Linked DNA regions of Homo sapiens: region 1 is linked to region 2. A link means that fine-mapping ties the variant in region 2 to the expression of a gene that starts in the linked region. Tissue or cell type: whole blood. Region 2 holds a variant in brackets; the other region holds the start of a gene. All regions are shown on one strand. Distances are from middle to middle. Region 1 holds the start of TOB1 (transducer of ERBB2, 1). Region 2 has its middle 51 kb from the start of TOB1-AS1.

The links.
Region 1: TOB1 starts here. The variant in region 2 is fine-mapped to the expression of TOB1 in whole blood (TOPMed, PIP 0.95).

The regions. Positions count from the first base shown.
Region 1 is chr17:50,862,733-50,878,067 of GRCh38, forward strand. It overlaps TOB1 (transducer of ERBB2, 1), which reads right to left and starts at 3,622. Exons shown (of 2, transcript NM_005749.4): 1 at 3,326-3,622; 2 at 1-1,431. The coding sequence starts at 1,285. The coding sequence ends at 248. It overlaps TOB1-AS1 (TOB1 antisense RNA 1), which reads left to right and starts at 3,947. Exons shown (of 2, transcript NR_038458.1): 1 at 3,947-4,485; 2 at 4,764-5,639. RefSeq lists an enhancer at 2,238-2,287 and silencers at 2,828-3,437, 3,448-3,957.
Region 2 is chr17:50,912,188-50,923,319 of GRCh38, forward strand. No RefSeq gene overlaps it. Among named protein-coding and RNA genes, the nearest start is that of TOB1-AS1, 51 kb to the left of the region's middle. RefSeq lists enhancers at 4,025-4,154, 5,549-6,468, 5,726-5,895 and a silencer at 5,043-5,102. The variant G/A (reference allele first, on the strand shown) is at 7,307.

The DNA of each region.
Region 1 (15,335 bases), 47 kb before region 2:
TCCTTGCTATATCTTAAATACTGTAAGAGGCCATATCTGAGAGTATACTTTAAAATATACAGTCAGTATAAAATAACTTTGTGCTTGGTTGGCAAATGAAAAATGATGCATGTTTTATTATTATTTTTTTAACCAAGCTTGAATGTATCCTTACTATAAGCTTAAAAAAAAAAATTCTCAAGGAGGTGAAAAAAAAAATCCCCCTTGGGCCCGTGCATTTTAACTTGTACGATACATTTTCTTTTTTTTAGTTAGCCATAACAGGCTGGAATTGCTGGTTAGAATACTGCATGTTATTTAAGCTAAAATTCAAGCCATCTACAAAAGATTTCTCATTGAGGCCTCCATAGGCTGCAAACACATCAAAGGCATTACTGTACTGGAGAGGACTGAGGTTAAGGGGGCTGTCACCTGGGAACATTCCATTGGTACTACTACCTTGACCCTGCATATTAGGAAAAATAAATTCCTTGGCATTAGGAGAAAGAGCAGAGGTTTTCTGCTGTTGTTGCTGCTGTGGTGGTGGTGGTGGCGGTGGCGGCTGGGCTGGCTGCTGCTGTTGCTGTGGCTGCTGCTGGCTACCCAAGCCAAGCCCATACAGAGAGTGCATTGAGGAAGAGATGGCTTTCTGCTTCAAGAGGTCATTCACATTCAAGCCGAGGTTGATGGGAGAAGTACGTGCAACCTTGTTGCTACGGCCACTATTCTTCATTTTGGTAGAGCCGAACTTGGTGGCAGCAAAAGTGGCAGTGGTAAAGGTTAAAGGCTGAGTGGACCGGGGCATGAAGGTAGGGCTTACAGCAGCAGAGTGACCAAAAGGAGGCGATGGAGAGCTGGACACTGATGAGGCTGGGTCACTTATGGGCATAAAAACCTGGGCCTCTGGGTTAAAGCTGTTTTTGATCTCCTTATCCAACTCACATCCATTTTCATTATTATCATCCACGTAAAGCACCTTCACTGGTCCCTTTTCACCAATTTGGTAAGAAACCTCAAATGGGTCGATCCAAACACTAAGATCCTGTGGCAGATTGCCACGAACATCATCAATGTCCAAACCACTCTCTTTGGATGCTTGTTCAATCACTGGGTCCACTTTCTCCCCTATGTGTATACATCTAAACCCCGATCCTTTGTATGGCTTTTCAGGATACCAGTGCCCTTCATATTTCTTCTTAAGAAGTCTTTCAAGTTCTTCACCAAAAATGTTGACACGTCTCCTGGGAAGCTTATTGTACAAATACGAAATAATAAAATTTAGTGCTACTTGGATTTCAAGCTGCATAGCTGCTACGCCACAAAATTAGGTTTCAACTCCCCCACCAAAAAAAAAAAAAAAAAAAAAAGATGTTCAGTTTGTGGCAGAGAAACAAATTTTCATTCAAAGTGCTGGTATTAGTAGATTATCCTTCACCTTGAGTGATCTTGTTCCTTAAAACAAAAGCAAACATATCCAAATAAGATAAATGTAATATAAGTCCCATGACCTTCCCCCCTCCAAAGTAATTTCACCTTTCAAAATGTCTAAGATCCTGTGTTAGTCTGCTAAGGATAAAAAGAAAAAGAAAATGTCTACTAGGACAGAAAGCCTGAAAACTGTTACTAGCACAAAATAAACATAAAATAGAAAATCGTTTATTAAAGTTTAAAATGACACAGGAAAATGTAGATTTACAAATGAAATAATGCTTTTAAAAACCTGTTTCTGAATAGAGTTCTAAGAAGAAAAATCTCTAGAACATGCATTCTTCTCTCCTCAGTTCTCACAAGAATATTTATTGTACTCAGCATCCTCCCCCCACCCCCATATATATAGATGCCACTTTTAGGTAGTAATTTTTATTGTTATTCACCAACTTAGAAGTGAATCCATGTTTTAGTTTACTTTGGATATATACTGTTTAAATCTGCTCTGTCACTGACATTTAAAAATTTGGTTACGTTAGGAAGATCATTTTAATTTCCATAGTACATGATGCTAAAATTAAAGACACTGAGTACTAAATGAACTTCATCCTAGTAAATAATTATGAACCAAATTATTCTATATAGTTTCGGCCTTAAGTATACTAAGAGCATACAATATAATAAAATCCAGCTTCTCTGGGCCTTTTGTTTTCAATGTGTATTTTTCTAAATCTGAAAATACCTATTCGGCAGCAAGTATAACAAAAGCAAAGACACAAATTAAAACTATTGATTATTCTGTTTAAGGCCAGGGTTTCTGAGTTTTAGTCTGATTTTAAAAAACCTCCGTCTGTCCCTCTCTCCCTCCCTCCCTCTCACGGTAACAGCCGGAGAGGCAAGTATGGTAAGGTCGACCTTTAAACGTTTGCTGGATCAGCACTGGGTGGGGATAAGAAAAGATCAAGGGCAAACAGAAGATATTTGCGAAAGGGATCTATTTGCACACTGAAGTTGATTTAAAAGTACGTTTAAAAATCAAGTTGGTCTTAATTCGTCTGTTCTATTTTCCATATTCGTGGTGACAAAGGGAAAAAGAATCTCTGGCTGCCCCCAAACTACAAACACTTTCCAAGTCAAAAGCCTGAGTGCCGGCAGAGGCAGCTGATTAAGCCCAATTGCTTGAAGGTGCAGCCGAGCGAAATTCAGGCTCGGTGGAAGGTAGTTACAAAGCAACGCCTTAAGACAGGCAGGAGTGTGAAGAATTACATAAACAGCCAGTTAGATCTCATTAGATTTCTGCTCACAGCCCTCGGAGCCCAAGCGCTACAGCAGCAGCAACAGCAAGAGGAGGTGGAGGTGGAGGAGGAAGAGAGTACGAGCCTCCTCGGAGAAGGAGGAGGAAGGCCCGGGAAATGGAAGAGCAACCTCTCCCGGCTGGGCACCCAGCACCGAGCAGGTCGGGGCGCCGGGTCAGCCGCTCCCCTCCCCCGCCGTAACCCGACCCGCTGCTCCCCGCCCCGTGGCCCCCGCCCCGGGCTCCTGGGAGCCGGCCAGAGCCTGGGGGAGCACCGGTTCCTCGGCACCATTTTCAGCCTCGCGGCCACCGGCCCCTCGAACCCCAGCGTTCCACCGCGAGCTCGTCGCTCCTCCGGGCACCCCAACCCCCCAATTCCCGTCAGCTCGCCCCGGGCCGCCCGTCCCCGGCCAACTGCCCAGGACGAGCCCGACGCGCCGGCGGCCCCTCGGAGCCGCTCCCCTCGGGTCCTGGCGCTGCCCCCTCGGCGCCCAGGGCCGCGACCCCGCCGTCCCCGAGCTCCCGAGGGCCCAGGGCTCGACGCCGCTGCAGCCCCTCCTCCGCCGCCTGGGCCCGGGGCTCCCGTCTCCTCGCCGACCCCGCCCGGCGCCCCGAGATACTTACGGGCTGCTTCGGGGCGGCTTGGACCACAGACCCGCGGCTGGGCGGGGAGCAGCGCGGCAGGGCGGGGGCGCGGGAGGGTCGGGAGCGGCGAGCTCGCCGAGTGCAAGACGTTGCCGCTGCGGGGCTGAGGACAGAGGACAGAGGCCTCGGGCAGGCCTTGGGAGATCGCCGTTAGTGGCTCGGGGTGGCGGGCACGGGGGTCAGACGAGCGCGCTCACTTCTCCACACAGCCCGGTGCCCGGCCCAGCGTCCCCGTAGTGCGCCCGCTACACGCCGGGCCAGAGCTTCGCTCCTTCTGCCGCGGCGCGCGCCCCGCCTCTCGTTTTATGGCCTCCTCCCCGCCCCCATCCCCTCCGTCGGGGTGCGCGCGCCCGCTCCGCGTCACACAGCTCCGGCGGCGCAGCCATTCCCCGCGCTCCCCGCCCGGCACCCCGGTCCCCCGCCGGCCGGCTCCGCCCCTGCCCTGCCCCCCGACGCCATTGGCCAAGTCCCGCCTGCCCCTGTCCGGACGCGCGGCGGACGCAGGGGTGGGGAAGCCGCACCCTCCGGGCTCCAGGAGGGCCAATGAACCGACGATCGGAGCACTGGGGACGGAATGAAGAGAACGTCTGGAAAGGGACTGTGGGGGCAGACGTGCCAATGAGAGAGAAAGGGGTGGGGTAGGGCGGCTGACGCCCGGTTTAGGCGGAGAGCGCCGGGCAGAGGGGGAGGGGGACGAAGCTGGTGGCGAAGCGGCTCAGGAGAACCGGGGCTGGAGGAGCGGCAAGAGTACCCAGAAAGTGCCCTCTCCGCGGGGGTCTGCGGCCAAGGAGGATCCTGCTCGTGGAATAGCTACCAAATCGGCCTCCAGCCCACCCCAGGGGCGGGGTAGAGAAAGGGCAAACTGTGACCGGGACTTGTGCACCCGATTAATTGAATATTAATCACCCCAAGGCCTAGGCCAACCGCCACCCAGAGAGTGGCAGCTGCAGAACCCAAAGACGTGGAGCCGGGCTGGGGGTGGGGAAGGGAGGCCGCCACAGCTCCCGCCCCGCCGGCAGTTTAACTGCTTCCGCAGCCTCAGGCCTCCCGGTGCGACCCCGGCTGCGACTCGGATCCGTTTATTCCAAATGTCCCAGCCCACGCCGTGCCCAGAGTGTGGCGACACGAGGCCAAACTGCGTATGTATCTGTGTCCATGTCTACACACACACGCATGCGTGCATTTCTAGGGCTTGCTGGATCGCAGGTGCACAGAATAAACGCGGTGCCTGCTTGTAAAGCGCGTTTAAGATCATTCTTGGCTGAAATATGTGCGGGTACCTAGGGAGTGGGGTAAGAGAGGGACTCGTGGTGGGGGGCGGGTAAGTGCCTTTTTCACAACCTGCCCCAGAGAAATACACGAAATTACATCGGGAGTGGAATCGAGCGTCCCTCTCAGCTAAAAATATTACTCACAGGTAGCAACGACGCCTGATTGGCTGCGCTGGTCCCTTCGCAACGAGGCGATTGGCTGCCTGGTATCCAGGAGACCGACGTCAAACTCGGACTGGGAAAAGGGGAAAGTCTGGGGGGAGCGAAGGAGGGGACGGGGAGAAAGAAGCAATGAATGAAACGCCCATCGCCTGGCCTTCCCCTTTCCCCTTTCCCCTCTCCTCTCCATTCTTGGAGCACTTCCTGGAAAAACACCAGTTGGGGCGCCGCCTTCCCCTCCAAACGTTGGGGCCTGCACTCTCAACCTGCTATAAGGAAGTTAAACCGCAGCTCACCGAGGAGTAGGGTGTCTACGGGGCGGGCCCGTGTAGACCAGCTGTGCTCCTCGGGCACAAACCCGCCGTACATGCCAGGCCTAGAAGCTTTTGGCTTTGTGGACGCAAAATCTGGTTGGAGCCGCCTTCTCCACCCTGACTCTCCCGCCTCTCCTTTTTAGAAGGAACCGCACTGAGAAAGGGTATTTCTGAAGGCTCAATGCGTAGGAGAAGGGGTGGGAAGATGGGTTTGTGGAATGGGCTGAGGGTGGGGAGTGGTCAGGTGACTGATTTCATGTTTATTGTACAGATTCCTAAAACATAGTTTTACTAAGTGACTCCTTAAATTCTGATTAATGTGATTTTTTTTTTTTTTTGAGTGTTTGGGTTTTTTAGTTGCAAACAGGAGTGGAATTGAAATGTGAAAGTATGGCAAAACTGTGAAAGCATTTAAATTAAAATGTCCCTTCCTCTGCATTGAAATGTCATCAAAGCGTCAAATATAAATGATTTGTTCAGTTTTCTTTTTTTATTTGTTTGTTTTTGGTTTTCTGTAATGACAAGTCCATCTGTAATAAAAGTGAGTTATTTTTAGTTTTCTAATTAAGCACAGAAATTTCAAGAAACTAGACAGGATATCCTTGGAATGCCTTACCAAAAGAAACACTTCATTTTTCACGTGTTCTAGAAGCACAACTTCTTTTACCATTAGGCAAATAATGGTACTGTACCAAACATCTAGAACTGCGGGACCATGTGTCTTGATTAGTAATTTTATATTGGGGGGGCATATTAGGCATGGCTGAGACTAAAATGTCTAAAGATAGATGAATTGTAATTTTGTCAAACTTATCTGTACTTTTCAATAATTCTCTAAAGAGAAGGGACAAGTTCTCTTTTCTGAATGTCTTCAATCTGTAATTCCAGATTTGAAATATGAGAGCAGTCATCTGATAGGTACTGATTAAATATCAGTAGCATTAAAAGCATTTTTAAGTCAGAAATGTAGATGTCAAAAATTTATGAGTTATTGCTGCTTGGCCTAGGAGTGTAAGAAGATGTCTGACCAAATATAAACACACACACACACACCACACAAACAACACACACGGAGGCCCCATGGCATACTGGAAAAAGCAATGAAGGGTGGGTACTGGGAGGTCTGAGTTTCACACCAGTTTCAATAAACTTTTAGTTTTCTCACCTATAAAAAGGGTTGAATTAGATCATATCTAATGTCTCCTTCAATTAAAAAAAAATTCCACACTTGGCTGGGAGCAGTGGCTTACGCCTGTAATCCCAGCACTTTGGGAGGCTGAGGCAGGCAGATTACCTGAGCTCAGGAATTTGAGACCAGCCTGGCCAACACGGTGAAACCCCGTCTCTACTGAAAATACAAAAATTAGCCGGGTGTAGTGGCACACGCCTGTAATCCCAGCTACTTGGGAGGCTGAGGCAGGAGAATTGCTTGAGCCTGGGAGATGGAGGTTGCAGTGCGCCGCGATCGTGCCACTGCACTCCTGCTGGCCGACAGAGCGAGACTCTCTCTCAAAAAAATAAATAAATAAAATATTCCGCCCTTAAAACTCAATGTTCCTAACATATATACTGCAGCTGTTCTTCAAATACAGATTGCAAGTCAGGGCGCGGTGGCTCTCGCCTGTAATCCCAGTACTTTGGGAGGCCAAGGTGGGTGGATCATCTGAGGTCGGGAGCTCGAGATCAGCTTGACCAACATGGAGAAACCCTGTCTCTACTAAAAATACAAAATTAGCCTGGCATGGTGGCGCATGCCTGTAATCCCAGCTACTCGGGAGGCTGAGGCAGGAGAATCACTTGAACCCGGGAGGCGGAGGTTGCGGTGAGCTGGGATCGCGCCATTGCACTCCAGCCTAGGCAACAGGAGCAAAACTTCGTTTCAAAAAAGAAAAAAAATACATATATATGGATTGCAAATAAAAGGGAAAACTGATTCACATCTCTGAACATTGCCAGTCACGAGGTATAAAATGTTCTTTATCCAAGTTCTGCATATGGCTTATTATTATCTAACATTTACTTTGGAATTGTGCAGGGGAGTGGAGGGCTAACTGCTAATTGTGCAGGGAATTAGACTTATGGAGGAAAAAAGAATTTGATATTAGGCTCCAAGTGTATCACAATCAAGAGGTATTCCTCTCTCTGAGCAAATAACAGTCACTAGAAACTACAGCCTTTGCCTTTCACATCCCTACATTCTACACAATTCCCAGTGGGCCCTTACAATAAAGGTAATCGTTTGGTAAAAAATAACTTCCAATATCTTCATAAAATACAGTTCTTGAAAGTGCCTTGAATTATTACCTAATCCACACAAGAACACACACATGCAACACCTTGATTTCTGAGATAGAGACATCCTAAGTTTTCTAATTCTTAATATGCTTCCTTGTAAATTGAGAAAGGGTTACAGGAGAATAGCTATCACATGGTGTATAATTATTAATACTCATTTTACTTCTTTTTTTTTTTTTTTTTTTTTTTTGAGACAGAGTCTCACTCTGTCGCCAGGCTGGAGTGCAGTGGCACAGTCTTGGCTCACTGCAACCTCTGCCTTCCGGGTTCAAGTGATTCTCCTGCCTCAGCCTCCCAAGTAGCTGGGACTACAGGCATGCGCCACCACTCCCAGCTAACTTTTGTATTTTTAGTAGAGATGGGGTTTCACCATGTTGGCCAGGATGGTCTCTATCTCTTGACCTCGTGATCCGCCCGCCTCGGCCTCCCAAAGTGTTGGGATTACAGGCATGAGCCACCGCACCCGGCCGACTCATTTCACTTCTAAGGAATCAACCTTTTACCTTTATTTGAAAATAAGACAGGCAGGGCAAGGTGGCTCACATGCTCGTAATGCCAGCATTTTAGGAGGCTTGAGGCGGGAGGATCCCTTGAGCCGAGGAGTTCGAGATCAGCCTATGCAACACAGTGAGACCCCTATCTCTATTTTATTTAAAAAAAAAAAAAAGGCGGGAGTGGTGATGCACACCTGTAGTCCCAGCTACTTGGAAGGCTGAGGTGGGAGAATCTCTTGAGACAAGGAGGTGGAGACCAGCCTATACAGCATAGCGAGGCCGTTTCTATTTTATTTTCTTTTATTTTTTAAAAATTAGCCGGGCGTGGTGGCGCACACCTGTAGTTCCAGCTACTTGGAAGGCCGAGGCAGGAGGATCTCTTGAGACCAGGAGGTCGAGGCTGCAGTGAGCAGTGATCGTGCCACTGCACTCCAGCCTGAGCAACAGAGGGAGGCCTTGTCTCAAACTAACAACAACAAAAAAACCCCATAATGTTCTTATTGTGATTTTTATTTATTTCTTTTTAAACGGTCATGCAACATAAATCATAGCACACACATTTTAAAATTATTATTAATTTTTTTTGAGACAGAGTCTCGCTCTGCGCCCAGGCTGGAGTGCAGCTCACTGCAGCCTCCCGGGTTCAAGTGATTCTTCCACCTCAGCCTCCCGAGTAGCTGGGATTACAGGCACCCGCTATCATGCCCAGCTAATTTTTGTATTTTTGTAGAGACAGGGTTTCACCGTGTTGGCCAGGCTGGTCTTGAACTGCAGGGATTACAGGCGTGAGCCACTATGCCTGGCCTAAAATTAATTTTTTAAATCATGCTCTAGTCATTGAGTTATTGAAAACCAAGTAAACCAGTTCTCTTCTAAACATTTCTCAAAAAAAGGCAATCCAGTTACGTCTGAGGAAACCTCAGTGTGGTTTCCTGTGGCTTTTCACATGGGTTTGTAGTGGAGGGCTATATAGTCTCCAGAAGACACTGGCACACAGACATTTGTAATTAAAAGATAACTAGATAATGTTGAACAAGCCTACTAAAGCAACGTGGTCTGATAGGAGAATGTTTCCTTATAATTTGCTCACTTTCTATTATCTTGATGAACAAAATCCAAACCAAATCTTGCAATTTCTTTCCATTAGCCGAGGAGGAAGATTTTGATTTCAGTAAAGAGATTATAGTGCGGGTTCTAGGAGTGATACGGTGTTCATGACATTCTAAGTACAAAGAACATTTATATAAAGTACTCTGAGAGCAAATGTTATTAGAGTACTTTAAATACATTTAAAGCATGGGTTGCATATGTTATTATGCAGCTCTGCTTACTAAAATAGAATGTGATTTTATATATATAACCAATTGTGGCAGACACTGTTGCCAGCTCACCCGTTTCCCATGCCCCATCCTCATTCCCTTTTCTTCCTGACTAAAGAGGCTAGAAGAGCTAAATGCATGTTTTCCCAGGCTTCATTGCAGTAGAGGTGGCACTGTGACACTGTTCTGCAGATAAGATGTAAACAGAAGTCAGCTGGGATGGTTTCTGAGGGTGCTATGCTTTTCCTATCAGAGAGGTTTGTTCTAGTTACTATTGCTGCATGAAAAACTATCCAAAACACGCATTTACTGTGGCACAAAAGGTCAATTTTATTATACCCTTGGATCCTGTAGGTAAGAAATTCAGGCTTGGCCTGGTGGCTCACACCTGTAATCCCAGCACTTTGGGAGGCCAAGGAGGGCGGACCACTTGAGGTTAGGAGTTCGAGACCAGCCTGGCCAACATAGCAAAACCCCCTCTCTACTAAAAATACAAAAAAATTAGCCAGGCATGGTGGTTTGTGCCTGTAATCCCAGCTACTCAGGAAGCTGAGGCAGGAGAATGACTTGAACCCAGGAGGCAAAGGTTGCAGTGAGCCAAGATAGCATCACTGCACTCCAGCCTGGGTGACAGAGAGAGATTCCGTCTTAAAAAAAAAAAAAAATTCAGACAGGGCACAAGGGGATGGATAGCTTATCACTGCTCCATAGTGTCTGGAACCTCAGCTGGAAAGGCTCAAATGCTCAAGTATCATCTGAAGCAGGTCTAACAGAACTTCCTCCAGTGATGGGAATATGCCATATCCGTGCTGTCAAATATAATAGCCACATGCGGCTCTTGAGCACTTGAAATGTGGCCAGTGTGACTGAGGAACTGAATTTTTACTTTAATTTAGTTTTAATGAAATTTAGATTTAAATAATCACATGTGGACAGCAGCTTCTGAATTGGACAGCATGGACCTGGAAGCTTTTTCAAAGCACATGTCTAGCACCTGGGCTGCAGTGACTCAAGGGCTGGGCTTAGTTGGCACTGTTGTTTGGAGCGTTTCCACATGGCCTCTGAATTTCCCCTGTGGTTTGGGCTTCTTACAGCGTGGCAGTTGAGAGGAAGCAGAGCAGTTTCTGGAGAGTGAACTTTTTAAAAATTAAAACCATTTTTTTCAAGTTTTTTCTAGAGATAGGGTCTTGCTGTGTTGCCCAGGCTGGTCTCAAACTCCTGGCCTCAAACAATCCTCCTGCCTTGGCCTCCCAAAGCAGTGGGATTACAGGCATGAGCTACCATGCCTGGCCACCATGGAAGCTGCCACCATGGAAGCTGCCACCAAGGAAGCTGCATGGCCTTTTATGACCCAGTCTCATAAGTCACAATGCACCACTTCCATTACACCCTAATGGTCAAAGTAACCACCAGCCAGATTCAAGGGGAGGGGACATAACCACCACCTCTCATGGAGGAGTGTCAAAGAATTTGAGGCCATTTTTAAAAATCACCACTGGGTCACTTCTCTCTTCTTCCTGCCTTGAACATGGATCTCATGGCAGGAGCTGCAGCAGCTCCTACTGAATAAACCATGAATAAAACGCAAGTTAATCACAGGGACAGGGGTTCTCACCAATGCTAGTCACTGCCTAGGTCTGGTCCACTTTTTAACCGACATTAAGTGTTCCATGACTTGCAGCTGAAGTATTTCCAGCAAAAACACTAATTTTACATCTTTTAAGGAAACCTGAACTTGATTTTCAAAAAAGCCAAAATAAATTTTTCCTCTAATCTAAAATATCAGGGCTTCTTTCTCATTATAAAACCTGGAAATGCTCATTATAGCAAATTTGGAACACATAGAAATAAAGAAGAAAATAGCAATCATCTTTAATCTCTCCATGCAGTGCTAACCATCTTGCTCCATTTCTTTCTGAATGAGTTTCTATCACACACGCAATTTTCTATCCTGCAGTTCACTTAACATTACATTTTTCCTATTTTCTCCTGACATTAAGCATTTGTCACAATCATCATTTTTAATGACTGCATATTATATTCTACTCTATGGATTTAGAATAATTTATTTAACCATCGCTGGGCATCTAAGTTGTTGAAAATGTTTCTGTATTAAAAACAAACATATTTAACAGGCATTTTTATATGTAAATCTTTAGCTACCTCTCTATTTCCCTGAGCTAGATTCTATAAGCAAACTTAGCGAGTGGAAGAGAAGGAATATTTTTTAAGGCTGGTAACATAATGACAATCCACCTTCCAGAGAGATTGTACTTTTTTACCTTCCCAGAGGATACGCACTGCAAAATCACTACATTTTTAGCCAGCGTTGCCTACTAAAAAATTTTTTTCTATCCTTGGCTAATTTGGTAGGTAAAATGATATCTGTTGTTTAATTTTTATTTCTTTGATTACATGTAGGATGAATAGAGTTTGACATGTTTGTCAGCTCGTTGTACTACTGTTTTTATAAATTTTTTATCTATGCCTTTTCTCCATGTTTCTCTTAGAGGTCTTTGTGTTTTGCTTCAATTTGTATGAGTATCTTGCATATTGTGTACAGATACGTGGCTGAAGAGGATCCTGGTCATAAACCTCACTCTAGAACTTGCCCAAACATTTTAAACATGTGATTTTGATGCCTAGAACCTTGCTTTTCAATCTACTGTTTCACTTTATAAGGTCCTGACTAACTCCTGGGTTATCCATAAATGCTTAAAAAAAAAAAAAAAGCAAGCCAGGTACAGTGGTACCTATAAGCCTAGCACTTTGGGAGGCTGAGATGGGAGAGAGGATCATTTGAGGCCATGAGGTTGAGACCAGCCTGGGCAACATAGCGAGACCCCTGTCTCTACAAAAAAAATAAAAATATTAGTAGGGTGTAGTGGCAAGCACCCGTAGTCCCAGCTACTAAGGAGGTTTGAGGTGGGAGTATCCCTTGAGCCCAGGAGTTCCAAGCGGCAAGTGATCATTCCATAGCACTCCAGCCTGGGTGACAGAGCAAGACCTTTTCTCAAAAACAAACAAACAAACAAAAACAGTTCTAATCATTTTTACTTAGGCCTCTGTCTTCTTGACCTTTCTGTCACATTTCACACTGTTTACTAATAACTACTTCAAATATTTCCTTTTGACTTTTAAGACTTTGCCCATTGTATTAACATTGGATATCCTAACATGGCCCCCACTTCCTATCTCAGCTGCAGTGGAGCAGAGAAGAAAAATTATGAATTCAAAATTAGAGAATTTGTGTTTGGGTCTTGCCACCTGGTATTAGTTGGGTATGGCTACTCTGAGTCTCAGCCCTCATCTTATAAATAATTAGAAGCAATAATTACCCTCAGAGTTGTGTGAGAATCAATTGAGGTGACACCTGTGAAAACGCTCTATGAACCGTCAAGCCCCCCATAAATGTGAATATTTTCTTCCTTCCTCTCCCCCTCCCTCTTCCCCTCCTTCCCTACTTTCTCCTCCTCCTCTCCTCCTTCTCTTCCTTCTCTGCTTCTTACATCTGGCAGAAATTCAAGTACCATTTGATTCAGCTCAAGTAAAAATACATGTGAAATTGCTTTTAAACTACAAACAAGTATTATTAACACTCTCTTCTGTCAGATACAGTGTTGCCAACTCAGTCCTTTTCACCTTCAAAAAACCTCTCAGAATCCCATGGCTTGATGTTTTATATTATTATTTAATTATTAGTTTATTTAGCCTTCCGTGTGTTTATGTCCTAGCCTTTGTTGGATTCCAAGCTTTTTAAGAGCAGAAAGCATGTACCTTTACACGAGCTTTATAGTGCCTTGCAGTCAATCAGTATTGACTGATGGCTTTGCTAGGTCGCTGCTTAATCCAATGAAAGAACACAGAATATTTGAGGAAGGGTAAGTGGCTCAGAGTGGCTGCTGTGGATGGTTCAGAGGTGAGAATCTAGAGAGGAGGCTGGTTGGTAGGCAGAGGCCAGATTACCAAGGGAGGAAATCTGGAATTTTGCCTTTAACAGACGGGAAGATGTTGGGTGATTTTTCAGTTGGGAAATGACATTATTGGAATTCTGTTTGGAGCACATTTTATTTATCTCTAAATGCCCCAGAGCATAGTACATTACTTGATACTTAGGAATTGCCCTGCCAATGTGTGTTCAATTGCTAGACGTAGTTTTATCACCCAATGGAATATTCTTCAATTGTTTGGTTGTTCTGAAGAAGAAATACTTACTGTCTTTTAAGGAAGATACAGACCCCACCTGGAGACCAATACTTCTATCCACTTGGGAACAAAAGGAAAAGTTTTGGCCGGGCGCGGTGGCTCAGGCCTGTCATCCCAACAATTTGGGAGCCTGAGGTGGATGAATCACTTGAGGCCAGGAGTTTGAGACCAGCCTGGCCAAGATGGTAAAATCCCATCTCTACTAAAAATACAAAAAGTAGCCAGCTGTTGTGGTGCGTGCCTGTAGTTCCAGCTACTTGGGAGGCTGAGGCATGAGAATTGCTTGAACCCAGGAGATGGAGGTTGCAGAGAGCCGAGATCATGCCACTGCACTACAGCCTGGGTGACAGAACGAGACTCTGTCACAAAAAAAAAAAAAAAGAAAAAGAAAAGAAAAGAAAAAATAAAAGATTATGTGGCAAGGTATTAAGTAAAAAAAACTTACGGTTTCTGAAAAAACTAAAACCTTTCTGTAGAAAATTCTACTGTGGTACCAGGAGGGTTGATTACTTCCACCTTTCCTTGTTGTTAGCCTAGACAACATCTGTTCCCCTTTCTTCCAGCAACAGTTGCGATTTTTGTGTGAGAACCTATACCTCTCCCACCCTTCATCCAGGAGCTTCTAGTGAGACTTGCGATTTTTGTGTGAGAACCTATACCTCTCCCACCCTTCATCCAGGAGCTTCCAGTGAGACTCTTGACAAGGCAAAAGCCAGCGAAAGCATCACATTCTCCTAACTACTGTGATGGGTTTAGGGATGGCTGATCAGAGCCAATAACTCAATTCTGGGACTTCTGTCTGAGGTCTTGGGATAAGGACTCTTTCCCATGAAATATGAACCTGGAAGTATTCATTGTTGAGGCTCCCAGGGCCATCTTAGTACCAAAAGGAGAGAGCCTGTCAGAGAATGTAGCTAACCCAGGTAAAACCAAGAAAAACCAAGTCCTGGAAACAGCCTTTTGAGCAGCCCTTGAATCAACTTTACCTGGACTTTCAGCTACAGGCTGTCTTAGCATAGGTTCCTAAACAAGCAGAGCCCAAGGCAAAGGGCTTTGCGCTACCACTTTATTTTTTATTTTTATTTATTTATTTATTTATTTATTTATTTATTTATTTATTTCGCTCTGTCGCCCAGGCTGGAGTGCAATCGTGCTATCTCAGCTCACTGCAACCTCCGCCTCCCGGGTTCAAGCGATTCTCCTGCCTCAGCCTCCTGAGTAGCTGGGATTATAGTCGCGTGCCACCACCCCAGCTAATTTTGTATTTTTAGTAGAGATAGGGTTTTGCCATGTTGGTCAGGCTGGTCTTGAACTCCCGATCTCAGGCGATCCACCTGCCTTGGCCTCCCAAAGTGCTCGGATTACAGGTGAGAGCCACTGCGCCTGGCCTTATTTTATTTTATTTTTTTTGAGATGGAGTCTTACTCTGTCCTCAACCAGGCTGGAGTGCAGTGGTATGATCTCAGCTTACTGCAACCTCCGCCTCCCAGGTTCAAGGGATTCTCCTGCCTCAGCCTCCCTAGTGGCTGGGATTACAGGTTCCTGCCACCACGCCCAGCTAATTTTTGTATATTTAGAAGAGACGGGGTTTCACCATGTTGGCCAGGCTGGTGTCGAACTCCTAACCTCAGTTTGCTACCACTTTAAGAGGGAGTGAAATCCCAGGAAGCAGGAGAGAGGGGCAAAGAGAGTAAAACAGCAAAGGAGGAGAACCTATTTCAGGTTGCGTTATTAAACCAATTGCTGTTAAGTAAAATTGCTTGATTCCATGGATTAGTCCTCCAAGAAGCCCTATAAACTGTATCCCTTTATGTGAGAAAAGAAAGGGGAGAATTCATCCATTGGTTCCCATCTCCCACTGGTCAAATAATTTATGCCATGTTGCATAACTGTATTGCATGGGTGTGTGTCCTGTCTCTCCAAGAGGCCTG
Region 2 (11,132 bases):
GCAGAGAGGGCCTGCTCTGATTCACACTTAGCTCTCTGGGAGAGAGACAAGGGCAAGCTTGGATCCTGGAGGACCAGAGAGAAAAGCCCCTGACCTAGGAGGTAGGAAGGGGAGGGCATTTATTTGTTCTATCTGCTCCTGATCAAAATGTAGTCTCCACATGTGGCCTGTGGAAACAGACCCCTCACCTCCAGCTCAAGGCTCCTGTGTACTGTCCTCCTCTAGTCCCTGTCTCTGTGGTCTAGCTACTTTGCCTCAGCCACTGGGCATCAGATCTGGGGCAGCATGGTCTAATAGAAATATAACCCGAGCCACACATAGAATATAATATTTTCTTTTTTCTTTTTTTTTGAGATGGAGTCTCGCTCTGTCACCCAGGCTGGAGTGCAGTGGCGTGATCTCGGCTTACTGCTTGCTGCAACCTCTACCTCCTGGGTTCAAGCAATTCTCATGCCTCAGCCTCCCAAGTAGCTGGGATTACAGGCGTGCACCACCATGCCTGGCTAATTTTTGTATTTTTAGTAGAGACGGAGTTTCACCATGTTGGCCAGGCTGGTCTCAAACTCCTGACCTCAGGTGATCCACCTGCCTTGGCCTCCCAAAGTGCTGGGATTATAGGCATGAGCCACTGCACCCAGCCAGAATATAGTATTTTCTAATAGCCACATTTAAAACAAGGAAACAGGTAAAATTAATTTTTTGAATATATTTTGCTTAACCCAATATGTCTAGAATATTATAATTTCAACACATAAACCATTTAAAAAGTAAAGAGATCTTTTATATTCTTTTTTCATACTAAATTTTCAAGATCTGGTTGGTATGTAGTTTACTCTTGTGGCACATCTCAGTGTGGACTAACTGTTCCAGTGCCCATGGGCACATGGCCATGGCTACCATATTGGAGAGTGCAGGTCTGGCACTTTCCTTGTGCCCTCCACTCCCCACAGGGGAGGTCAGAGGCCTCCTCAGAGGCCCCTGTCCAGACCCCTTTGCCTTTCCCTGACCCAGGAGCAAATCATCCTTTGGGTCGGGGTGCCCATTTATGTTTCCTTATTGGACAGTGGGGAAGGCAAGACTCCTGGACTGGGCATCAGAAGGCTCTGCCACTCAGCCTGCTGTGTGACCTGGAGCAAGTTACCTCCCCTCTCTGGGCACTGGCCTCATTCTCTGTCAGATGAATTTTCATTAGATTTGTGACTTTCAAACTGTGGAACCTGTTTTTCCAAGGCAATCTCATGCCGAACCCCCCATGTATAAATCACAGGAGAGTGGAGCTGCTCAAGGCACTGTGAGCTGCTGCCTCCAGCTCCCAGCCTGGAGATCACTCAGTGGCCAGGCCCTGGAGCACAGAGGGTGAAAACCTGGCACTATCAGTCTGCAACTCACATTTTCAGACCTAATTTTCTTTTTTTTTTTTCTTTCTTTCTTTCTTTCTTTTCTTTTCCTTTTTTTTTTTTTTTTTTTTTTTTTTGAGACAGACTCTTGCTGTGTCGCTCAGGCTGGAATGCAGTCTCAGCTCACTGCAACCTCTGCCCCTCTCCCAGTTCAAGCGATTCTCCTGCCTCAGCCTCCTGAATAGCTGGGACTACAGGCGCCTGCCATCATGCTGGCTAATTTTTGTTTTAGTAGAGACAGGGTTTTGCCATGTTGGCCAGGCTGGTCTCAAACTCCTGACCTCAGGTGATCCACCCGCCTCTGCCTCCCAAAGTGCTGGGATTACAGGCATGAGCCACCGTCCCGGCCTCACACCTAATTTTCTAAACCTGCAAATGACACCGTAGGTTGCTTATGGGCCCGTGTACATAGTAAAAGTATGAAAACATGCATAGGAAATGTGCTGGTTTCAAGTTAGTGGTCTCCTCTGATGAGGGAGGAAGAAGGATGGGCTAGGGATGTCACTTCCGTTCTATTGCCAAAATTTAATTTTTGATTGAAAGAGACCTAAAGAGAATAGAGTGAAATATTTACATGTGTCCAAATTTAGTGGTGGGTTTGTGGCTGAGATATTACTCTGTACTTTTCTGTATATTTGAAATATTTTACAACTTTAATTTGAAACTTTAAGAAGGACAAATAAATATAATCTGGTCTCACCTTAGGCATAGAATTTATTTATTTATTTATTTATTTATTTATTTTAGACGGAGTCTCGCTCTGTCTCCCAGGCTGGAGTGCACTGGCGCAATCTTGGCTCACTGCAACCTCCACCTCCCAGCTTCGAGTGATTCTTCTGCCTCGGCCACCCAAGTAGCTGGGACTACAGGCACGTGCCACCAAGCCCGGCTGATTTTTATATTTTTAGTAGAGATGAGGTTTCACCATGTTGGTCAGGCTGGTCTCGAACTCCTGACCTTGTGATCAGCCCACCTCGGCCTCCCAAAGTGCTGGGATTAGAGGCGTGAGCCACCGCATCCAGCCAGGCATAGAATATTTTTAAACGGTCAAGTAAAATGTAACTTTCCCTCCCCACAACACACTTGGTAATCCCTAAGACCCCCCACCGCCCCGACCATCTCCCTGCTCTGGTAGTTCAGGAATGTAGGCGCTCAATTGACCAAGGGTCAGGAGTTCTGAGGAAGCAGACAGCAGCTGAGCATTTATTCAATAAGTATCAACTCTACCTTTGGGGTATCAGGTATGTGGGGGTCCCAGAGAATTGAGACCCAACCCTGGTTCAAGAGGAGCCTGAGATGGGTGAGACCTTTCATGGTTAACCTGGCCTCAGGGATGGCTGTGAGGGGCCGAGGGAGGAGGAGGGATCTGCACCTCTCTGGCTCCCATGCCCCCAGCCTGCGGTCTCTGGGTGGAGGGAGGCCCCTCCTCTCCATCACTCACTGCTCTTTCCTCTCCTATCGCAGCTTGACTCTCCAATGCACTGCGGATTGCCTTGGGCCCCTCTGGTCGAGTTTTGGGGGGCTCAGCTCACCCCTCTGAATGTGTGTGTGTTCTCCCCTGGGCCCCATTGCTGGTTCCTCCCAGTCACCGTTTCCCCCACATCCACTGATGAGGCCCCAAGCTCAGAAAGTTCAGGAGACCTGCCAGGGTCACCCTTCTGGGCTGGGCATGGCAGGAGGAGGGTTGTGGGAGGGCAGCTATGTACCAAGTCCAGCGAGGTTATTTCACCCCAGCAAACAGGTCCTGCTGGTTTGCCATTTGGAGAGAGTTTGGCCCCAGTTCCCATGGACTGGTTAAATGGTAACTTGTCTTCAGTTGTTTGTGGAAATGTGACAGGGCACAGGCCACCAGCTAGGCCGGAAAAGCCGTGTGAGGCCCAGCTAGCTCTGGGCATTGGACTGCAAGCCATGCTTCCCTCCCCTCCCCTCCCCTCCCCTCTCCTCTCCTCTCCTCTCTTTTGAGACAGAGTCTCACTCTGTCACCCAGGCTGGAGTGCAGTGTCGCGATCCTGGCCCACCACAACTTCTGCCTCCCAGGTTCAAGCAATTCTCCTGCCTCAGCCTCTTGAGTAGCTGGGATTACAGGCGCCCACCACCACGCCCAGCTAATTTTGTATTTTTAGTAGAAACAGGGATTTACCATGTTGGCCAGGCTGGTCTCAAACTCCTGACCTCAAGAGATCCACCCGCCTCAGCCTCCCAAAGTGTTGGGATTACAGGCATGAGCCACTGTGCCTGGCTTTTTTCTTTCTTTCTTTTTCTTTTCTTTTCTTTCTTCCTTTTTGTCCCCCACAAGGTTTCACCCTGTTGCCCAGGCTGGAGTACAGTGGCATGATTACGGCTCACTATAACCTTGAACTCCCAGGCTCAGGTGATCCTCCAGCCTCAGCCTCAGCCTCCCAAGTACCAGAAGTACTAGGACTACAGACACATGCCACGCCTGGCTAATTTTTTTTTTTTTTTTTTTTTGAGACTGGGTCTGGCTATGCTGCCCAGGCTAAGCAATACTTATTTTCCTTATTTTTATTCTAATAAGATTCCAGAATCTTCCCCTTTCACATGTCTTCCTAGCCAGATGAGTAAGAGCAAGGAGGAGTGGTGATGTTAATAACAGAGTGACACAGCCTTTGAGGGCCTTTCATTGGCAGATTTCTTAACCAAGAGCAGCTGTGCCCATTTTACAGGAGGAAAAACTGAGACAAAGAGGAGTGAGGTCACTATGAGTCACTGGCCTTTCTGGCCTAACTCAGACTAGGCTCAATATGGCTGAGCCAAAGAGACAGAGCAGGCTGGGGGTGGGGATGGAAAGAAACTCTGGTTCTTCAAAGAGAGTTGACTGTCCTTGCTGGCCTTAGACATCACCCCTTCCCTTTATTCAGTGCCTGCCTGATTAGAGCTGGACATACAGGATCTCATCTGCTCCCACAACCACCATCTAAAATAGGCAGAGCAGGTTTTACTTGCCCTGTGTTAGTTACAGACAAGGAAACAGAGTTACAGACAAGGAAACAGAGTCAGCAAGATTAGGAGCCTTGTCCAGTTCCACAGCTGGTCAGGCCCAGGGAGACCAGGCCGCTGGACACCAGCTCAAGATGCAAGCTTATCTGCGATTCCCAAGCTTATACCAGGCCTGACTCTGTTTCCAGCGAAAGAACCCCAGGACATAATGTTTCTGAGCTGAGTGTTAGATGGATCAGGGGCTAAGGATTTGGGAGGACCTTTCTTGAAATTAACAGCTGCTTCGAGAGTGAGGCTTCCGACCCGCCCTTTCTTTATTTCCTCTGGGCCTGGTTTGGCAGACCTCCACCCCCAGCCCACAATCCCAGATGGACAGAGGTAGTTCTCTCCAGCTTTTGGAGACCTCGGGGAGGAAGAAGCCTCGCTCACCCGCTCCTAGACAGTGTGTGTGAGCCCTCAGGCACCCAGGGTGGGCAATGCTTCCCAGGCAGAGAGGGCGTGCAATGCAAGTGAGGTGTCCATTAGACAGACCCAGGGCACTCCAAGCCCCATAGAGTGACTCACTTTCTTTCTTGGCACCCCCAAACGACTCTACCTTCCTCAGCAGGTCTTGTGAAGGTGCAGTGACACAATGTGCATGAAAGAGGCTCGAGCAGGACCTGATGCACAGTAGGTGCTCAACAGCTCCGCCCCGCCCCGCCCTGGCCCCCCGCCACAGCTTCCTGTGCCCCTGTGCTGTGATTTCAGCCTCAGAGGAATGGAAGACCCCAGGATTTCCCCAGGAGGGAGTCTGGCATCCTCGCCATCGTGGTTGGCTCCTGTGCTCACCCATCGAGGCCACTCAATGCTGCGCTGGGGTGGGAGATTCTTTATTGAGGAATCTGCAGAGGTCAGGGGAAGGCAGGAGCCAGGGCCACAGGGGAGGCCGGCCAAGGACAGCTGCCCACAGCAGGCCACAGCTGGGGCCCTCCCCACACTGCATGCTGGCTTGTTTTTCATGCAAAACCATGTTATGTAAATCAGTGCTGGGTTGAGCACACTCAAGTCAGAGTCACGAATTGGGTCCCCCACCGCCCATCCAGGGTGTCTGAAGGCCTAGGCCAGCATGCCCATTATTCAGCCAGAGCAGGTGGCCGAGCCAGCTGGGCTCGTCCCCAAATACTTTCAGGGAGGGACGCTAGGCCTAGGACCCGGGGTCTACAGCCCTGAGGGGAGGGGGCAGAGGATGCAGCCTTGGAAAGCCCAGTACCTGGTGAGTAGGGAAGTGTCCTCCCAGGTGGTTCCAACCTTTAACCCAATTCCTCTGTCTTGGAGGCAAAGGGAAAGGACGTGGCTGATCCCCGCAGAGCCCAAGGCCAGCCACCATCCTTTCATGGAGCCAGGCAGCTTCGAGAAGCCACTGAGGCTCCTTGTGCTCCTTGTGTGGGCACAAAGTGTGGGCTTCTGGAGGGGGTCCTTGGACCTCTATCTCAGCAGGGACATTCCTCCTCCCCCCGCCTTCCAGACCTCCTGCTCCAGATGCCTGGCTTCTCCAGGGCACCCCGATGGGTGGCTCTGCCACCCCAGGACACTGGACTGGGGCCACCCTTACAGAACCGGTTCGAAGCCAAACAATGGCACGTCACAGTCCAGCTGAGCCGGAGGCCTCAGCAGGGTAAGTACAAGTGAGGCTGTGGCCAAGAGGGGCATAGGTGCCAGGGACTCAGAGGCGGGCGCGCGCAAGTGCCAGCAAGCCCTCACTGCCTAACATGGCAGCCCCATGGCTTCCTCTCTTCCCCGTGACCTGACTGCAGCTTTGAGGACAGCACTTGCCCTCCCCTCCCAGGCAGCGGGCCCCTTCCCTGGCCCCAGAGGTGAAGGAGGGCGACTTCCCCAGGGAGAGGAAGCAGAATGACGGCCTGCAGCTTTCCTGCCGCGGGAGGGGAACTTCAGGTCAGAATGGCCGTCTCAACCTCATGGAAGCCTCCCTCTGGACTGACGAGTGACCGCTGTTGTGGTGGGAGGTCCACCTTCCCGCAAAGGGAGCCAAGAGCCCAGAGGGGTCACTTGGGCCCAGGGAGGGTGGGACACAGACGTCTGGGTGGAAGTTGGACAAAGTCTGGCAGAATGGGGCACCAGGGCACAGTAAGACCCTGGCTGGGACACTGAGTGGGGACAGTCCCCAGCAATTCCCTTGGAGATAAAGAGCCTGCGGCAGGTCCCAGATCCTGACAGAGGACAGACAGGAGGGGACAAGCTGGTGGTGGGGGTGAGCTGGCTAGGCAGAAAGCTCTGTGGACACCTGAGGCCTCCTCCTGGAATTGCCCCAAGCCATGTGGCTAAGGCCTAGGGAGACCCTCACCATGTGGGGTGGGGTGGGGTGGGGGCCCCTAGCCAAAGCTGGGAAAAGGCAGAGCCTTCAGAGAGCCTCCTAGGGACAGCAGCAGAGAGGAAGCCTTCGAGGCCTTTCCAAGCTCCCCGCTGCCCGGCTCTCCTCCTGCCCAGCACACCGTGGGTGGACTCCAACCTACAGCTTCACTGATCTCAGAAGGTCCCACCCTCTCCCGCCTTGTGCTTCTGACTGTTTATTTCCTGCAGAGGAGTCAGTGTTACTGCCACTGAGAACAGAGATGGCTCCACCCAGAGGGCCCACCCTTGGGGCACAGGGGACCCTTGCCCATACCCCCTGCACCCTGGCTCCATCCTAATGCAGGGATATGAGCTTGGGCCTGTGTCACAGCTGCTTCCTGGGCCTCTGAATCCTCATCCTTGAGCTGAGGGTGTGAGACCGGAAAATCCAAGCCACCATCCAGCCCCAATGTCTCCCCATCCCATGACTCTCTTCCCCAAATAACACATCTCCCCAAATACCTCTCCTCCTCCCCAGTGAGAGGAGGCGCAGGGGAGGTTGTTGGATAACTGTGCCTTCTCCTCCCCGAATCCCAGCCTCTCCTTCTGGATCCCACACCCAG[G/A]GGCCCAGCAGTCACGGGGCTCAGGGTGCTCCCCAGCCTTTACAGTTTACCCATCCCTGCACAGTAGCCATGATTTCATTTCCTCCTCACTGCAAGGTAAAGATCATTAGTTCTCTTTTATAGGTGAAGAGACTTAGACTCAGACAGACCCTGTGTCTTGCTCAAAGTCACCTGGCCAGTCAGGGGTAGGGCTGGGTTTCGAACCCAGGGGCAGGCCCTCTCCGCCCCCCGGCATCGGTGCAGAGCCCTGGGTCGCCCTCCTCCAAGGTCGTTGTGGTGTGAACAGCCAGGCGCCTTCATGCAGGGCCTGACTGCAGCCGCCAGAGCCTGGTGATGTCAGCATTGCCATGGAAACCCTTCCCCGGGCGTCGGGCAGGACCAGCCTCCCCAGCGCAGTTTCCCTTTGTGTGGACTTTGCAATGCGTTGCCAAGGCAGTGGGGCCTGCTGGGCGGGTTGGCATGGGGTGGGGAAGGCAGACAAAAACCCACACTGCAACTGGCAGCTCACAACAGGGCCCACGGTGCTTGTGGGAGGGAGGGGCTGCAGGCTGGTGGCCTAAGGCGTGAGAGTCGGTGGGCAGGGGGTTACCCACACACCTGCTTAGGACCCCCATCTGGCAACAGCCTTTTGGCGTCTTTGGTGCTATTTTGGGGTCCTGCTGCCTAAGAATCACCTGGGCCTGGGTGTTGTGAAAAAGGCAGACCTGCTGGGCCGGGGTGGAGAGGAGTCAGCAGTTTAAACAAACCCCCAAGGCAATTCGCGTATGCCACCAATTCCGAGGACACCTTCAGGGAAGAATAACATTTATTGAGCACCTAGCTATGCCAGGCAGGCCCTTCTGCCTATTTTCTTTCTTTCTTTCTTTCTTTTTTTTTCCGACAGAGTCTCACTCTGTTCCCCAGGCTGGAGTGCAGAAGCGCGATCTCAGCTCACTGCAACCTCTGCCTCCCGGGTTCAAGCAATTCTCCTGCCTCAGCCTCCCGAGTAGCTGGGACTACAGGTGTGTGCCACCATGCCTGGCTAATTTTTGTATTTTTAGTAGAGACAGGGTTTCACCATGTTGGCCAGGCTGGTCTCTAACTCCTGACCTCAAATGATCCGCCTGCCTCAGCCTCCCAAAGTGCTGGGATTACAGGCGTGAGCCACTGCACCCAGCCCCCTTCTGCTTATTTGCTCTTGCATTATAATCCTCACAGCAACCTTGAGTGGGAGAAGGGGACAGAAGAAAATTTTTTGTGTGGTTTTTTAAAAAAATCCTCATTTCCCAGAGGAAGACGCTGAAACTCAGAGAGGTTAAATCTCTGCTTGCCCACGGTCACTCGGCATAGATGTGGCTGAGTCCAGATTCTAACGCTGTAGCCTCCTCGCCATCCAAGCTGGGCCTGTGGCCTGGCAGTGTTCGCTTCCTCCTCTTGCTGGTTTTCCAGGAAGAATCCTAAAGTACCTTTGCAGAGTGGGCCAGCTCTGTCCGAAGCCTCCCACGAGCTCCCGGATCTAAGAGGGGATTGAGCCAAGCGAGAATCTCCAAGCCCAGGCCCCTCCCCAAACTGGCTGCCTGCAGAGGCTTAGAAAGCCTGCCCAGCCTAGTAAGGAAAACCAATGCCCTGGCCAAAGTCTCTCCTGTCCTCCAGCCACCTCGGCCCTCCAGCCACACCCTCCTCTGTCCTGCAGGCTGCCCTGGCCTCCGTGCTCCCTGAAAGAGCTCCTGAAGCCTCTGCTTCCTCCCCTCGCCCAGGGATAGGTGGTCTCTGACCCAGTCCACGGAGATGCCCCCTTCTTGGAAGTTTCCGGGAAGAGAAATTCGGTCGCCTTTGCTGGCGATGTTGCAGAGCCTCCTCTTACAACCGACAGCCTTCCTGTGTCCGTCCTCCACACTTCTGCTTTCTCTGAAGCCTGATTCCTTAAGAACTGTCTCTCTCTTTCTTTCTTTCTTTTCTTTTCTTTTTTTTGAGTCTTGCTCTGTTGCCCAGCCTGAAGCCCAGTGGCACAATCTCTGCTCACTGCAACCTCTGCCTCCCAGGTTCAAGTGATTCTCCTGCCTCGGCCTCCCTAGTAGTTGGGGTTGCAGGTGTGCACAACCACACTCAGATAGATAGTTTTTGTATTTTTAGTTCAGACAGGGTTTCACCATGTTGGCCAGGCTCGTCTCAAATTCCTGACCTCAGGTGATCTGCCTGCCTCAGCCTCCCAAAGTGCTGGGATTACAGGTGTGAGCCACTGCGCTTGGCCTCTCTCTTTCTTAACAACCTCTCTGAGGGCTCAAGGGGAAGGAACCCTACCCTTCAGCCCCGGGGCCCTATTTTGCCCGCTGACTCTGAAGCTGAGACTCTGCCTGATGCCACAGCCCCAGGATCCAGGCCCCTCCCTCTCCACCTGCATCTCCTTTATTTCTCATTTATTTATTGATTGATTTTTTTTGAGACAGGGTCCCGCTCAGTCACTTGGGCTGGAGTGCTGTGGCACCATCACAGCTCACTGCAGCCTCAGCCTCCCGGGCTCAAGCGATCCTCCTACCTCAGCCTCCCAAGCAGCTGGGACCACAAGTGCCCACCACCAGGCCCAGCTAATCTGTAAATTTTTTTGTAGAGAGAGGGTCTTCCTATGTTTCCCAGGCTCGTCTCCAACCCTTAGGCTTGAGTGATCCTCCTGCCTTGGTCTCCCAAAGTGTTGGGGTTACAGGCACCATGCCCAGCTGTGAATCTCCCTTACTAAGGTCAACAAACACTAGTGACCTCCACTGAGAGCTGGTGAGAACTAACCTCATGCCAGGGATGCCAGGAATGGTTGGATGGTGAATGGTGTTGGGGTTCAGCTTGTGCTGGGCACACCTAAAGCCAGCCAGGGTTCCAGTCCCAACATGACCAGGCCCTGCCTGTCCCTTCATTGAACAAGTATTTCCTGAAGTCTGTGCTATGTAATAGGAAGCGGTTTTTTTTTTAAAGTCCCCAAACAAGCCAAGGATGGAGGAGAATTAATAAAAGACAAACAATGGAATAACTGTGACCCCTGTGTCCCCATTGTAGAAGAGTACAACCTAGTCACAACCTAGTCGTAGTTCATGTTTGACTTTGGGATGAAGAGGAGGCATACTCCTGAATGCTGACAATGGTCATCGCTAGCTGGTGGCCTTTTAGGTGACTTTTATATACATTTGCTGCGCTTTCCAAACTTTCTATGCTGTAAGATGGAATTTTTATAAGCAGAGGAGCCCTGGCAAGCCTGAGTATTTGTTGAGAGCCTCTTAAGGAAAGCTCGTTGTCTACAGCCTCTGGGTCTGGAGGATGGGGCAGAGGTCAGCTGGTCCATGCCTTCTCCTCCCTACAGGGGCACACCCAGATCAGTCGATAAATTGCCTGGCCCCACCTGTGCAGGCTGGGTGAGGCTGCCTGGGTGGAGAGCCTGGGCCCAGGGGGCCCCTGGAGACTCTGACCCCAGCCAGAGTCCATAACAACCACAGGACCAGAAGGCAATGAATGGGTAACATCCACCATGGGCCTTATAACCTCCTCCCCGGCCCAGCCAGGCTGGGAAGCAGAGGAGAAGAGATGGGGGTGCTGGTTGTCTCAAGGAGAGGGACCCCAATGTGGAACAATAATGCCTCTTGCACAGGCTGTTGGGGGAATTAAATGTGATGACTGGCCCACAGGCCACAGAGGAGGAAACACTCAGTAAACATTGTTGGGCATGTGGATAAATGCACAAGCTGGCCGTGCTCCCTTATGGGGTTGGAAATCCTCTCCACACTGCAGAGTTGTAAAGTATCCTCTCCTTTACGATCTGGGTGGGAAGCACTCTCTGCTCCTGAATTCCCCCACACAGGCTGCA